Linked DNA regions of Homo sapiens: region 1 is linked to region 2. The links come from fine-mapping of genetic effects on gene expression. Tissue or cell type: fibroblasts. Region 2 holds a variant in brackets; the other region holds the start of a gene. All regions are shown on one strand. Distances are from middle to middle.

Region 1 (5,387 bases), 28 kb before region 2:
ATAGAACCTGATTTGTGTTGAAGTCATCTTCTGCATGATATGTGGAGAATGAACTAAAGTAGAGAAAAAACTGATGTAGGATACAAGGCAGAAGGCATTGTGTAGCTCAGGAATGTTGGCAGATTGGCCCAAGGGCATGAAATTGGAGGTGTTGAGAAGAAGATGACCTGAGACATATTAGGAGGCAGAGGTAACAGGATATGTGGGTGGTTGGGATGATACGGTGAGGCTCAGGCAATAACATTTCACCTATCAAACCCTCTGTATTTGTGGGCCAGCAGGACTTTTCCTGTTTTGATTCTTGATTGGCATCCAAGGAACCCACGTTTAGGGAATAAATGAAGCTGAAGGTTCATGTTTCTGTGGTGAAGAAAAGGCAAGACACATTCTTGTCCTCATGTCAGCTGCCTGGGACATTGAATTTTTCATAGCCTTGTTTGTCTAACATAGAAAGGGCTCTGAACCTACCCAGATAGATGACCTAGGGTAGGAGGCCATGCTGGGAAGTAGTTAGTCATGGCTCCTTGGACTCCATTGCCAACTATGCCACTTAACAGCTACAGCTGAAAATAAATTATAGACCCAAGAAACCTCAGTTTCCTCATATTAATTTAGGTGACAAATCCACTTTACAGGGCAAAAGTGCGTAGTGTTTATAAAAGGTCTGATAGAATGTCTAGGATATGGACATTATTAAATGTAAATTATTGTCATCCTTATCCCACCCCTGTATGAATAACCAGAAGATGCTGATGATATGCAGTTCCCTGATGACATCTCAGCCCAGTTGGGTGAGTCAAGGGCCTGGTAACCTTCAAGCGTAGGTCTTGGTTTCTCTAAAGCAGATTTTGGACGTTTCTAACTACAACATGATTCTTTTCTTACTGACAGAGTAGGGAGTCTGGGAATGTTAGTTGTGCTTTCAATCACAATTCAAATTCTGTGGAAATTCACTGAAGAAAAGAGAATACCTCGTGAAGCGTGTTTTGGTCCATCAAAAATTACTAACTGCTTATTTGAGTATTTATTGCATAGTCATTTAGGTTTTGCAAAAGTTGTCAAAACCAAAATGAGTAACTTGTGTAAAATAAATAAATAAGTAAATAAATAAATAAAGCCAGGAGGCTGAGAAAAGAGGGCACTCAAACACACATGCTTAAGATAAGAGCTATTACTGTCTCTGAGGGCTCTTAATGCACATATTCCCGTTAAAAGAAGTTTTGACAAGAACTTCTCAAACCGCAGCTTGCTACAGGAGTTACAAGGACAGCTCTAGATGTAGTAGAACACTTGCCTGACAGATTGTCTCCACTAATGAACTGGTGTTAACCTCTGCCATAAACATCTGTGACCAATGTTCTTTTTATCTCAAAACAAATTATATATACTTTTCCCTTTTGCCTTTGAAAGCTTCTCCTTGTTTCAAGCTCTCTGGATATGCCTATAGTCCCTATAGCCTGCATGTCCTGGATTTGCAAATCCCCTGTGCATTCCTGAATGAACTCAACATCTTTGAAGAATCTCTGTTATTTAGGTTGACAGTTTAAATATATCCTACATTGTGCTTTTCTTTGCCTCACTTCTTCCACTTATTTTACTATTATTTTACCTTTCTATTGATTATTTATTTATATTCCAAACATTTCCTCTTCTAGTTTGAAAAGTATATACGCTGACTGTATTTATTATATTTAGGCTAAAAATTACAAACGTTTAACACATTAGCGTGCCATACAGGATTGTAATACATTTGCTTTCCACTTGGAAATATAAAAAATTTAAAACTTTGAGCAACTAGCCTCCTTTCAATTTATATGTAGTTGAGGTTACGCACGGGAATTCCATCATTCTAACTCAATAAGTATATCTACTTATGTTTTACACTGTAATATGCTGTTATTTTAATCAAAAGATGCACTTCTTTTCATCTTCATTTCTTCTCTCATTGCAGACTTTTCACCTGAGATCAACTTTCTTTGGCCTTGAGTATTATTTTAAACATTATTTTTTGTGTAAATGTATTTCCATTACATTTATCATTTTTGGTTTCAAATAGTTTTATATCACACTTCCATAAAAGACATTTTGTTGTGTATAGACATCTAGTTTGGTGGTTATTTCTTCTTTACAGAAAGTGTTCATGTTGCCCTTTTCATTGCCATATGACATTTGATGAATTCTGTCTTTTCAGACACTTGTAAAACACTTAAAATATTGAATACATCTCTGTATATGGAGTATGAAATACTATCTTGAACAAGAGTATTACTTGTTGGGTTTGACACAATCACTGCTGTATAAGCAGGATAAATATTTTCTGAGGTAACAGACAGAAGGGTTATTCACTTACTTCAAGGCCACCAAACATCCCCACTCCACGTTCCACATCATGGTGTCTGGAGTCTTTTCTTTCTTGTGCCTGACAGAAAATGCTGAGGCTCGCCAAACTAACTCTGGAGCATCAGGCTACACGCATTTGAAAACAATATTTGTTAACTTCCAGCCATAGAAATCTGAGTGACGTCAGTGTATGGTGTGTCCATTTTATTTTTTGATGAGCATTCTCTGCGTAAGGAAGGCTGAAATCATGTCTCTAAACATTCCTTTGATGTCAAACACGACGTTCACCAGAAATACAGATATGGCTCCTTCAAGAGGAAGCTAAGCTCCGTCTGGGCCTTGGAGACGAGGGACACCATTTCCACGCGCCCCTGGCGGTCTTCTCTGGGCTTTTAACCTGGAGGTGAAGCGAGACGCCGCTTACTAGTGTTGGTGCCGTGGGAACTACATTACCCAGGAAACTTGGCGGCTCTGGGCCAATGAAAACCCAGGAAATAGGCGTTTCCGTTGGTCCTCACCAACGTCAGGGCGGGACTTCCTCTACCATCCTCGGGTGGACATTTTGTTTGCTTTTCCATTAATCCACTGGTTTAGTTTCCAGAACGCAATGTCAGACCTGAGGTGACAGAAAAGGGAAAACGTGAGAGAGTGTCTTCTTCCCTGAAGAGAGGTGGGCCTGAGGCTTGACAGTGGCGCTGCCTGAGTGACCTAGCCGCTGGGCTGGGCCCTGGACAGCTGATCCCAGGTTCCTGCACTTGTCGCCACCCTTCCGTAGTCCACAGGCCTGATGGCGGCGGCTGAGCCGATGGGCCCGGCACAGGTGGGTGCTGCGTCTGCGAGTCTGCGCGCTGACCCCCATCTCTGAATCCCAAAGCTTCGAATGAACGATTCCTCGGGTTACTGCAGCTCAGGCCCCTGTATCTAGAACAGTGGGGGCGCTCGTGTTTGGGACCCATTTTGACAGCACGAGTTGAAGGACGTTCCAGGCAGAGAGACCAGTGTATGCAAAGGCTCAGAGATGGTTCACAGCTGGAGCATTTGGGAAAACTGGGCCTTTAGTGTCTGAAAGGATCAGAGCGCTTTATAAGTGATTGCACCTGGAATATCATCCTGAGCAGCTGGGTCTCTATTCTGAGGGTGATGGGAGCCATGGAAGGTTCTGAACAGAGGAGAGCCAGAATCCGAGGGTTTAAAAAGTATTCCATAGACTGCTCATGGAGGGCAGACTCTTGTTGGCCATGGGGGCGGATAATGAGCACTGTTCCGAGCTAACACAGTTAAGAGGTATCCTTGAAGATGGAAGCACAGAGGGTAGACATTCAGCTCCCAGGCACATTGTAACTGGGTAGGAATATGGGATGGGGTTGAGCCTTTGGGGTTCCTTCAAGATTGCTTGACTCGCATAGTCTCCCTCTTCCCCACAGGTTCCCATGAACTCAGAAGTAATTGTGGACCCTATACAGGTGAGGGGAGAATGTCCATGCTCTCACCGATCCCACCCCCACCCAATACGCTCTCCAGCATTGTGGTGTTATATAGAACACTCTCCTGCTACTCTCCGATCTCTTGGGTCTGAGGACTCTGGAGAAGCCCCAAGCCCAGGGTCCTGACTCCGGGCCAGGGGTTTTATGGAGGGGTTTCCATTTCTGCCAACCATTGGAATAAGGTTGGAAGGTTGTTCCAGGCACAGGAACCAGCCTGTGCAAAATACTTAGAGGTGAGACTGAGAAGGGAGTTTTCAAGAAATTGCAGGTCTCTGTCATGTCTGGTGGGAACCAAGAGCAAGGGGGCGGGAATCATCCTGAAATGGCTTAAAGATGATTATGTAGATTGGGAGTTAAAAGAGAATATTCATTTCACAGTGGTAGTGCATTTAGTGAGCCAGGAAAGTGATGGTGGAGAGCCAGAGTTGTGAGATAACTGTGATCCAAAGAGTGATGTACATATGGAAAGAAGTGTAGACTGATGACGTCTGGGCTTAAAGGAGAAAGGCAAGCCCATCTTTGGTTGTCTGGTAAGCATGATGTTAGTGACCCCAGAGGAATTTGCTTACAGAAGGGTGAGGCCCTGTATGCTAAGCACAGAGCTTAGAGGGTGACAACTTCTTCACCTGCCTGTGGTTGCTATGGGTAGACACAGTGATCCATTGGGACCATGAGGCGAGAGAAGACACCAATGACATCTGGTCCTGATATTTCCTGAGTTGAGGAGTTAGGTAGGAGGGTGTACAGGAGGGAGATGTGTGGGGGCACGGATGGGGGTTCTTGGGAGAGATGCTGCTCATGGACTTGGCTCTCCTGATTGTGGCAGGGGCAGGTGAACTTTGAGGACGTGTTCGTGTACTTCTCCCAGGAGGAGTGGGTGCTCCTTGATGAGGCTCAGAGGCTCCTGTACCGTGATGTGATGCTGGAGAACTTTGCACTTATGGCCTCTCTGGGTAAGGCCGTCACATCCACCCCAGTGACTTGGACTGGGTCCTGCCCTTCCCCTTTTTTTCAGGGCATCTTTGTCCTTCCTACATCAGAGCCGTGGACACTGTCTCATTTCTTAGTGCCTGGAGTAGGTTCTGTGAGTGCTGGGCTTGGGCTGTTTGCACTCCTACTTTCTCCTTTTGAGCATTCCCAGCGCTTGCTGTCTCAGAGCCTTGCAGGCATGGATTCAGGAGTTATGCATTGTATTGTCAGCCCAGTGGGTCATATCCATCTTGTCCTTTCCCTGTCTGAATTCCTCTGTCTGTATCCATGACACCTCTGTGCCTGGGATTCTGCGCTCTTCCTTTAGCTGACATTTCCTGTGGCCTGCCTATGTCAGGAATTGTAGGGACCATTATGGTCGCTACTTGCTAGGACCACTGCACTATTCCTGCAAGACCTTACTCTGAGATTATTTTAATAATATTTAGTTTTCTATATGGGTTACCCAGACCAGTGCTGTTCTATCTTTCCCTTAGGACATACATCTTTCATGTCCCACATAGTTGCCTCACTGGTGATGGGTAGTGAGCCCTGGGTACCTGACTGGGTGGACATGACCCTAGCTGTTGCCAC
Region 2 (5,387 bases):
AGTGAGCATGAAAGACAGAGACAGCTGATTTTATAAAAACGTCACTCTCGGGTTAACAAACCCACTCTTATGATAAAGGCATTGATTCCTTTATAAGGGCAGAGCCATCATGACCTAATCACCTCTTAAAGGTCCCATTTCTCCACACTGTTAAAATGGCAATTAAAATTCAACATACGTTTTATAACGCCAGAGACACAAGAATCCATAACACCTTTGGATTACTTGCTCTGACAATGACTTTGCCTACAGGAGATACACACGTCTGTAGGTCCTCAGAGTTTCTGTATACCCTCATCTCACATAGCCATAGTTACTGAAACATTCATGGATGTCTCTTTACAAGGCGCTCATCCATTCCACTCTAGTTTGCTGGTGTCTCATACTTCATATTAATACAATCACTGTTTCTGTACAGACTATGGTTCCCAAACTGCTTGCTATGGTTTGACCATCTCCTCCAAAAGTCACATTGAAGCTTAATCTACAGTGTGGTAGTACTGAGAGGTGCGACCTTTAAGAGGTGATTGAATCATGAGGGCTCTATCCTCAGGAATGAATTAATCAATTTATGGGTTGATAGACTAATGGGTTATCCTGGGAGAACTGGTGGTTTTATAAGAAGAGAAAGGGCCAGGGGCCGTGGCTCTTGCCTGTAATCCCAGCACTTTGGGGGGCCAAGGCGGGCAGATCACCTGAGGTCAGGAGTTCGAGACCAGCCTGATCAACATGGGAGAAACCCTGCTCTACTAAAAATAAAAACTTAGCGGGGTGTGGTGGCACATGCCTGTAATCCCAGCTACTCAAGAGGCTGAGACAGAAGAATTGCTTGAACCCGGGAGGCAGAGGTTGCGGTGAGCCAACCCAGGAAGCGGAGGTGCAGTGAGCCAAGATCGCGCCATTGCACTCCAGCCTGGGCGATAAGAGCGAAACTCCGTCTCAAAAAAAAAAAAAAAAAAGAGAGAGAATGATTTGCGCTAGCACGTTAACATGTGAGCACACTCAGCAGCCTCACCATGTGATGCCCTGTACCACCTTGGGACTTTTTGCACAGTCTACCAGCAAGAAGGCTCTTACCAAATGCGGCCACTCAACCTTGGACCTTTCAACCTCCATAACTGTAAGAAATAGATTTTTCTTTATAAATAACCCAGTTTCAGGTATTATTTTATAAGCAATGGACAACAAACTAATGCACTCTTACATTTTACATCCAGGAACATAACCTACATCATTTTTGGGTTCAAGACACATAGCTCATAAGGCACATCACAGGAGCAAGCTATCCCTAAACAATACTGGAGAATATGGGACATGCATGGGTACAAATACCCAGCTCTCACAGCTGCCATAAATCCTGACAGTTGTCAAACCAATTGTCCTGGCTGCAAGCTGACTGTGCAACCATAAATAATCTTCAAATTCAGGGTAAAGGATTTTGGATAGAAATCCTTCTTTTTCCCAGGAACCTTCTGAAGCAATATACATCAGGCGTTTGTGGATTGAGTTGTTTTTTTTTTTTTTTTTTTGGTTTTTTTGTTTTTGCTATTTCCTTGGAAGTACATAAAATTGAAAACCTCACAAAACCACTCACTTTTTCATTTTGGCAGACTCCAATTTTGCTCTCAACCCACAGCACACAGAGAATAAAACTGCAATGAGTAAATGTAGCTTAAACAATGACTTTATCATCACTAAAACCAGTATAGTCACGTGGAAATTGACTGGGTTTGGGCAGCTTGGAAGGTGAAAAATCTATCACCAACATTATAAGACAAGCAATAATACCCATGAAGAAAGGAAAATCTTTACAAGCTGCCAGCTCAAGCCAGCCTGTATCCTCTGTCCAAAGTTGGATGATGTCTGCACCCAAACCAGCCATGGAAGTGGGAATGAGGCCTCGCCCGAAGGGATCAGACTCAATAACTCCAGATAAAGGTAGAGAGCACAGCTATCTGCCCTCCCTAAGCATTTTAAGGTGATACACACTGTGATATCAGCTAATAGTGGATGGAAGTCTTTTGTAGTACACACTTTCAGTGACTTAACACTGGCAAGGATCCCAGGCAGGTCAGAAAGTGCAAGGTAATTCACAAAAGCTTCTCATATAGCAGACAATTACAACAAACCTCCCTTGTGTGGATGTTTGGATGTAAGATTCCATTTCTGGTTGAGGTCTCCCTCACAAAAGCTAATATCCACAGCTTTACTATTTTATCTGCTGGCAAAAGCACTTTGCCTGCCTGCATTCCTAAGGTCTTTCTCCAAGATGGTTTACTGGTGCTGAATGAGGTTAATGGCTGAAGACTTTCCAACATTCGCTGCACTCATGATACCCTTCTGGGTATGTAGTTTTAAGATTTAGAAGTTTTCTTGATGTCAGGACATGACATGACAGATAGATGAAAGGTGGAGCATGTTGTAACTTACAACTCAGAACCAGAGGACATGATTCAGGGCTGCACCGGAGTTGTGAAGGAATATAGATAGTAATACAGCAAACTGGAGTTGTAGGAGGCAGCTTGTGTGTGGCAAGTGGATTCGGGTTAGCTAGATTTTCTGGGCTTTCTATACTTGGCCAATTTGAGTAATTTTACACATTTCAGGGCATAGGAGTTGTCCCCAGATGTCTGATACCTGCTCCTGGGGTGACTGGGGCTGATATATATTGACCCAGAGTTTGACAGCCTGTTAAGGAAAGTGGTTGGAAGTGTACTTAATCAGCTGTTCCAAATGTAGCACTGTCAAGCCTCTAGCAAGGGCCTCAACAGTGGACAGAAACATTATTCTTTTAAAAGAATTATGTATCAAAACACCTTGGTACTAGCACAAATGCATACATATAGTGGAATAAAGAGGCCAGACGGAAGTCCTCATACTTATGCTCAGATTTTTGACAAGAGCGCAAAAACTTATTAAGGAGTCTTTTCAACAAATGACTTTCAAAAAGCTGGATATCTATATGCAAAAGAATGAAGTTGAAC[T/A]CTTACCTTCCTCCATTTACTAAAACAAACTGAAATAAATCAGACATAAAAGTACAACTTAAAACTATAAAACTCCTAGAAAATAACATGAAAAAAGGTTCATGACACTGGATTTAGCAATAATTTCTTGGGTATAATACCAAAAGCATAGGAAACAAACATAACATATATTGGACTCCATTGAAATTTGAAAACTCCTGTGCAAAAAAAAAAAAAAAAGACATGAACAGAATGAAAAGGAAGCAGACTGAATGGTAGACAGTATTTGAAAAACACATATCTGCAAGGGGTTAATATTTAAAATACGTATACAGAATATGTACATATATAATACGTACATGTTAACCACTCAACAAAGTATATATACTTCACATCATGTTGTACACAACAAAAGCATACAATGTTATCTGAAAATTTACAAAAACTTTCTTCAATGGGCAAAGACATTTAACAGATATTTCTCCAAAGAACCTATACAATTAGTCAACAAGCAAATGAAAAGATGCTCAACACCAATACTGAAATGCAAATTAAAAAACCATAATAAAATAACATCTTACACCCATCATGATTAAAAAACAAAGTGTTGGCAATAATGTGAAAAACTAGAACCCCTGCACTGGTGAGAATGTAAAATGGTGCAGCTGCTATGGAAAATAATTCCCCCCACAATTTAAAATAGAATTAACGGGAAGTGGCCAGGCGTGGTGGCTCACGCCTGTAATCCCAGCACTTTGGGAGGCTGAGGCGGATGGATCACAAAGTCAGGAAGATCAAGACCATCCTGGCTAACACGGTGAAACCCCGTCTCTACTAAAAATACAAAAAATTAGCCGGGCGTGGTGGCGGGCACCTGTAGTCCCAGCTACTTGGGAGGCTGAGGCAGGAGAATGGCGTGAACCCGGGAGGCGGAGCTTGCAGTGAGCCGAGATTGTGCCACTGAACTCCAGCCTGGGTGACAGAGCAAGACTCCGTCTCAAAATAATAATAATAATTATTATTATTATAATTATTATTATTAACGGGAAGCACCATTTCCACTTCTGGGTATATGTCCAAGAAGAATTTAAAGCAGGGCCTCAGGAGGTATTTGTATATTCATGCTCATAGTGGCATTAACAAGAACAGAAGAGTGGAAGCAACCCAAATGTACACTGAAGAAAGAATACAGGAAAAGTGGCATATACATATACCACAGTCATATGCCACACATTTCTGTCTACCATGGACCACATGTATAACAGTAATCCCGTATTATAACAGAGCTAAACAACTCCTATCACCTAGTGCCACCACAGCCACTGTAACTCAATCCCATTACTCAAGTGTGTGTGGTGACACTGGTGTAAACAAACCTACTGGTCTGCCAGTCATATAAAGAGCACAGGCCGGGCGCTGTGGCTCATGCCTGTAATCCCAGCACTTTGGGAGGCCGAGATGGGCGGATCATGAGGTCAGGAGTTGGAGACCAGCCTGGCCAACATAGTGAAACCCCATCTCTACTAAAAATACAAAAAATTAGCCGGGCATGCTGGTGGGCACCTGTAATCCTAGCTACTCGGGAGGCTGAGGCAGGAGAATCGCTTGTACCCGGGAGGCGGAGGTTGCAGTGAGCCAAGATCACACCACTACACACCAGCCCAGGCAACAGTGCAAGACTCTGTCTCAAAAAAAAAATAAAGCCAGGCGCGGTGGCTCATGCCTGTCATCCCAGCACTCTGGGAGGCTGAGGCGGGCGAATCATGAGGTCAGGAGTTCGAGACCAGCCTGGCCAACATAGTGAAACGCCATCTCTACTAAAAATACAAAAAATTAGCTGAGCGTGGTGGCAGGCACCTGTAATCCTAGCTACTCGGGAGGCTGAAGCAGGAGAATCACTTGAACCCAGGAGGCAGAGGTTGCAGTGAGCCGAGATTGTGCCACTGCACTCCAGCCTGGCAACAGTGCGAGACTCTGTCTCAAAAAAAAAAAAAAAAAAAAAGTGTGAGGCAAGGCTTCAGAAAATATTCCAGAATATTGTTATCATAGGAGATAACAACTCCCTGTTATTGAGCCTGAAAACCTTCTAGTGGGACAAGATGTGGAGGCAAAAGACAGTGATATTAATGATCCTCACCCTCTGTAGGCCTTGACTAATGTGTGTGTCTGTGTCTTCATTTTTAACTTATTTTTTACGAAGTTAAAAAATTAAATAGAAAAAGTTTATAGAATATAAAGGAGTACTTCTATACAGGCTGTATAATGTGTTTGTGTTTTAAGCTATTATTACAAAAGAGTCAAAAAGCTTTTTAAAATTTTAAAAGTTCATGAAGTAAAAACGTTACAGTAGACTAAGGTTAATTTATTACTAAAGAAAAAATTAATTTAGAGTAGCCTAAGTGTACAATGTTTATAACATCTACA

What was found. PIP is the estimated chance that this variant, and not a neighbour inherited with it, causes the effect.
Region 1: ZNF772 starts here. The variant in region 2 is fine-mapped to the expression of ZNF772 in fibroblasts (GTEx, PIP 0.91).

Annotation. Positions count from the first base shown.
Region 1 is chr19:57,475,050-57,480,436 of GRCh38, reverse strand. It overlaps ZNF772 (zinc finger protein 772), which reads left to right and starts at 2,871. Exons shown (of 4, transcript NM_001144068.2): 1 at 2,871-3,160; 2 at 3,765-3,803; 3 at 4,651-4,777. The coding sequence starts at 3,128. RefSeq lists enhancers at 2,357-3,556, 3,147-3,670.
Region 2 is chr19:57,447,019-57,452,405 of GRCh38, reverse strand. ZNF749 (zinc finger protein 749) reads right to left here. Exons shown (of 3, transcript NM_001023561.4): 3 at 5,305-5,387. Among named protein-coding and RNA genes, the nearest start is that of VN1R1, 7.4 kb to the left of the region's middle. The variant T/A (reference allele first, on the strand shown) is at 2,985.